Regions from separate parts of the Homo sapiens genome. Here region 2 is linked to region 1. Evidence: fine-mapped expression QTL. A gene starts in region 1. The other region holds a variant in brackets. All regions are shown on one strand. Distances are between the middles of the regions. Region 1 holds the start of ZNF727 (zinc finger protein 727). Region 2 has its middle 290 kb from the start of LINC03075.

What was found. PIP is the estimated chance that this variant, and not a neighbour inherited with it, causes the effect.
Region 2: its variant is fine-mapped to the expression of ZNF727 in whole blood (TOPMed, PIP above 0.99).

What each region holds. Positions count from the first base shown.
Region 1 is chr7:64,044,045-64,046,862 of GRCh38, forward strand. ZNF727 (zinc finger protein 727) reads left to right here and starts at 1,390. Exons shown (of 4, transcript NM_001159522.3): 1 at 1,390-1,580. The coding sequence starts at 1,578.
Region 2 is chr7:63,061,679-63,064,496 of GRCh38, forward strand. No RefSeq gene overlaps it. Among named protein-coding and RNA genes, the nearest start is that of LINC03075, 290 kb to the right of the region's middle. The variant C/A (reference allele first, on the strand shown) is at 1,023.

The DNA.
Region 1 (2,818 bases):
ATTTCCCAAATCCAGCTCTTCCAGGCTTTTACTCAGATTTGTCTTATAGAGGCATTTCAGGGACTGTTGCCACAGGAGGGAAGGGCTACGGGAGAAAGGCCCCTTGCTCTTTTGATGTGGAGGCCTCCGGCTGTGAGGGAGGAGCTCTTCCCTCTGACTCCCTGGAGCTCCTCCCCATCACAGGGACACTGCCTTTTTGCTGCTTTAGCCTCATCTGGCCTCTCTGTGGTTTCGTCTCCAGGGTGGCCAACGTGGATGTCTTCATCTGCCAGAGTCAAAGAAAAGGTCAGTGATACTATGCTCCCTTCACCCAGTTATGCCCAGTTACACTGACCTGGTATCCTGGATAACTGGTGTGAGTAAGCTGGTCCAATGCTCCTGTCATCTCCAGTAAGTTCTGATTCTAGATTGACTCCCTGCTCCAACACTCCCTGTATGTGGAACCTTGGGCATGCAGCCAGGCCTCCCTGAGACTGTTTTCTCAACTTGAAAGTGTGATGGGAACCACCTACCTCACTGGGCCTTGTGAGGACTCAGTTATATGTAGCTGTCACCATTGTTCTCATCATCTCAGGAAGAGCCAGGCACAAGCACTCTCAAAGTTCTTTTCTCCTTTGAAGCTCATCATTAGCCCCTCTCAGTCTCATCATCCCTACATTTTTTGGATAAGAAAACAGAGGCCCAAAGAGGGCAGTGACTTGCCCAGGGCCCTAGAGAAGAGGCCGGCTCCTTCCCACACCTGGAGGCACTGACCCAGCTGACTTTACCCCACAGCCCAGCACTATCCCTGACTAGGGTCCCATCTTCGTTCTCCATGCTTGTTTAGGTCCTCAGGCAGGCTCAGCTTTGGTGGGAAAGAAACAGGGTGTTTTGGGAGGTCTGGGTGAGTGGCACTAACCAATCTGCTAGGCCCTCACCTCTCAGTCTCACTGAGACACTCCATTAATTGGAAGCAGACCCAAAATTGCTTCACAGACTGAAGGTGATAATTGTCTGCAGCCAGCTGGTGCAGCTGCATCTCCTGGAGGACTTTGATCTCCTGCAACTAAAGGGAAAGACAGGATGCTGAGACAGGGCCTGCAGCATACACATAACTATAATTCAGAAATTGATATACACACACGTAAATATAATCAGAAAGTGATATAATCTTATATACAACGTTAAATACAAATGTCCCTCAGGCAGGGCCAGGCCCCCAACACAAGGAGAAATCGCTGCCTGAACATGCTGCAGGCAAAAACCTGTCACTCTTTCCTCATTCAGCCCAGTGTCTCATTACATCTCCTGTCGATCAGGGTCTAAATGTGTGGGGCGGAGAACCCCAGCCAATCAGTGGTGCTAGCGTGAAAACTGCCCAATCAGGTGCGCAGCTAGAGAGGAAGAGGCGGGCTCTTCAATATGGCAAGGCCTTCGTCTCCTAGCTTCTAGGCTCTGAGTCCAGTACCCGTCTGTACTATTCCATCTCTTCCGCTCCATTAGCTCCTCGGTGACTCCACCATAGCCCCTGTTATCCTGTGACCTGCAGGTACTGGGAGATCCATAGGGAAGAAGGCGGAACATCCGGAGGCTGGGAAATGGTGAGTGCGCGGAGTGGGTGTCCCGAGAAGGGGGAAGAGGCTGTTTGAATCCGGTCGGAACTGGCTGCGGTGGGATCTTGGCCTCGCGGTCAGCTCTGCAGCAGCTCCGAGTCCCCGTGGGCACAGTTCAGTCCTCACTTCCCTCCGTCGCAGATTAGGAGCTGAGCCTGCAGCCAAAACCCGAGCGTCTTGTTTTGTCCATAAACGCGAATTTCTTTCCAGCCCAGAGACTTTTTGGGCAGCTCTGTGTCGCAATCCCGAGTCTCCTCCAGATTGTGCGGGGACGTCATAAGACGAGAATCCTCATTCAGGGTCTGGAGTTCCTCCGTGGAAGAAGCAGTGGGCCTTGGGGTCCCCAGTCCCTCCTTTCTCCTTTTAAAAATTGTGGCTTATTTTATTTATTTATTTTGGAGACAGTGTCTCACTCTGTGCCCAGGCTAAAGTGCAGTGGCAAGATTTCGGCTCACTGCAGCCTCCACCTCCTGGGCTCAGATGATCCTCCCACCCCAGCTCCCCAAGTAGCTAGGACTAGGGAGACATGCGCCGCCACCTCGCCTGGTTTTGTGGTTTTGTTTTTTGTTTGTTTGGTAGAGACGGGTTTTTGCAATGTTGCTCAGCCTGGTCTCGAACTCCGGAGCTCAGGTGATCCGCCCCCCTCGGGCCTCCTAAAGTGCCGGGATTACATGCATGAGCCACTGTCGTAGCCTAAATTGAGGCATCTTTAGGATATAGTTTCGAAGTGTTTTCCAGCCCAACTCTCCTATTTAAATGTAATACCCCATGTTGGAGGTGGGGCCTGGTGGAAAGTGTTTGGATTATGGGCGTGAATTTCTCATGAATAGTTTAGCACCATTCCTCTTGGTATTGACCTCTCGATAGTGACTGAGTTCCCTGAAGTTCTTATTTAAAAGTGTATAGCAACCCCCTTGCCTTCTTTTCAAGCTCCTGCTTCACCTTGCACCAGGATTTTAAGCTTCCTGGGTGGGGCCCCCCCAGAAGCAGATGCTGGTGTTATGCTTTCTGTACAGCCTGTGGAACCATGAGCCAGTTAATCCTCTTTCTTATAAATTACCCAGTCTGAGGCATTTATAGTAATGCCAGAACCGATTAATACAAACAGTTTATTTGCACAAACAGCAATTTATGAATCAGAGAATATCCAACTATGGTTTGGGGGCTCAAAGGAGAGACTTGGAACAAAAGGCTTTTGTAAGAGGTATGAGGAAGCAAACCAGATT
Region 2 (2,818 bases), 980 kb before region 1:
GAGAACTTCCCCAATCTAGCAAGGCAGGCCAACATTCAGATTCAGGAAATACAGAGAATGCCACAAAGATACTCCTCGAGAAGAGCAACTCCAAGACACATAATTGTCAGATTCATCAAAGTTAAAATGAAGGAAAAAATGTTAAGGGCAGCCAGAGAGAAAGGTCGGGTTACCCACAAAGGGAAGCCCATCAGACTAACAGCAGATCTCTCAGCAGAAACTCTACAAGCCAGAAGAGAGTGGGGGCCAATATTCAACATTCTTAAAGAAAAGAATTTTCAACCCAGAATTTCATATCCAGTCAAACTAAGCTTCATAAGTGAAGGAGAAATAAAATACTTTACAGACAAGCCAATGCTGAGAGATTTTGTCACCACCAGGCCTGCCCTAAAAGAGCTCCTGAAGGAAGTGCTAAACATGGAAAGGAACAACTGGTACCAGCCGCTGCAAAATCATGCCAAAATGTAAAGACCATCAAGACTAAGAAGAAACTGCATCAACTAACGAGCAAAATAACCAGCTAACATCATAATGACAGGATCAAATTCACACATAAAAATATTAACTTTAAATGTAAATGGACTAAATGCTCCAATTAAAAGACACAGACTGGCAAATTGGATAAAGATTCAAGACCCATCAGTGTGCTGTATTCAGGAAACCCATCTCACGTGCAGAGACACACATAGGCTCAAGATAAAAGGATGGAGGAAGATCTACCAAGCAAATGGAAAACGAAAAAAGGCAGGGGTTGCAATCCTAGTCTCTGATAAAACAGACTTTAAACCAACAAAGATCAAGAGACAAAGAAGGCCATTACATAATGGTAAAGGGATCAATTCAACAAGAAGAGCTAACTATCCTAAATATATATGCACCCAATACAGGAGCACCCAGATTCATAAAGCAAGTCCTGAGAGACCTACAAAGAGACTTAGACTCCCACACATTAATAATGGGAGACTTTAACACCCCACTATCAACATTAGACACATCAACGAGACAGAAATTCAACAAGGATA[C/A]CCAGGAATTGAACTCAGCTCTGCACCAAGCGGACCTAACAGACATCTACAGAACTCTCCACCACAAATCAACAGAATATACATTTTTTTCAGCACCACACCACACCTATTCCAAAACTGACCACATACTTGGAAGTAAAGCTCTCCTCAGCAAATGTAAAAGAACAGAAATTATAACAAACTATCTCTCAGACCACAGTGCAATCAAACTAGAACTCAGGATTAAGAATCTCACTCAAAACCGCTCAACTACATGGAAACTGAACAACCTGCTCCTGAATGACTACTGGATACACAACGAAATGAAGGCAGAAATAAAGATGTTCTTTGAAACCAAGGAGAACAAAGACACAACATACCAGAATCTCTGGGACGCATTCAAAGCAGTGTATAGAGGAAATTTATAGCACTAAATGCCCACAAGAGAAAGCAGGAAAGATCCAAAATTGACAACCTAACATCACAATTAAAAGAACTAGAAAAGCAAGAGCAAACACATTCAAAAGCTAGCAGAAGGCAAGAAATAACTAAAATCAGAGCAGAACTGAAGGAAATAGAGACACAAAAAACCCTTCAAAAAATTAATGAATCCAGGAGCTGGTTTTTTGAAAGGATCAACAAAATTGATAGACCACTAGCAAGACTAATAAAGAAAAAAAGAGAGAGGAATCAAATAGATGCAATAAAAAATGATAAAGAGGATATCACCACCGTCCCACAGAAATACAAACTACCATCAGAGAATACTACAAACACCTCTATGCAAATAAACTAGAAAATCTAGAAGAAATGGATAAATTCCTCGACACATACACTCTCCCAAGACTAAACCAGGAAGAAGTTGAATCTCTGAATAGACCAATAACAGGATCTGAAATTGTCACAATAATCAATAGCTTACCAACACAAAAGAGCCCAGGACCAGATGGATTCACAGCCGAATTCTACCAGAGGTACAAGCAGGAACTGGTACCATTCCTTCTGAAACTATTCCAACCAATAGAAAAAGAGGGAATCCTCCCTAACTCATTTTATGAGGCCATCATCATCCTGATACCAAAGCCAGGCAGAGACACAACCAAAAAAGAGAATTTTAGACCAATATCCTTGATGAACATTGATGCAAAAATCCTCAATAAAATACTGGCAAACTGAATCCAGCAGCACATCAAAAAGCTTATCCACCATGATCAAGTGGGCTTCATCCCCGGGATGCAAGGCTGGTTCAATATACGCGAATCAATAAATGTAATCCAGCATATAAACAGAACCAAAGACAAAAACCACATGATTATCTCAATAGATGCAGAAAAGGCCTTTGACAAAATTCAACAACCCTTCATGCTAAAAACTCTCAATAAATTAGGTATTGATGGGACGTATTTCAAAATAATAAGAGCTATCTACGACAAACCCACAGCCAAATCATACTGAGTGGGCAAAAACTGGAAGCATTCCCTTTGAAAACTGGCACAAGACAGGGATGCCCTCTCTCACTACTCTTATTCAACATAGTGTTAGAAGTTCTGGCCAGGGCAATTAGGCAGGAGAAGGAAATAAAGGGTATTCAATTAGGAAAAGAGGAAGTCAAATTGTCCCTGTTTGCAGATGACATGATTGTATATCTAGAAAACCCCATTGTCTCAGCCCAAAATCTCCTTAAGCTGATAAGCAACTTCAGCAAAGTCTCAGGATACAAAATCAATGTACAGAAATCACAAGCATTCTTATACACCAACAACAGACAAACAGAGAGCCAAATCATGAGTGAACTCCCATTCACAATTGCTTCAAAG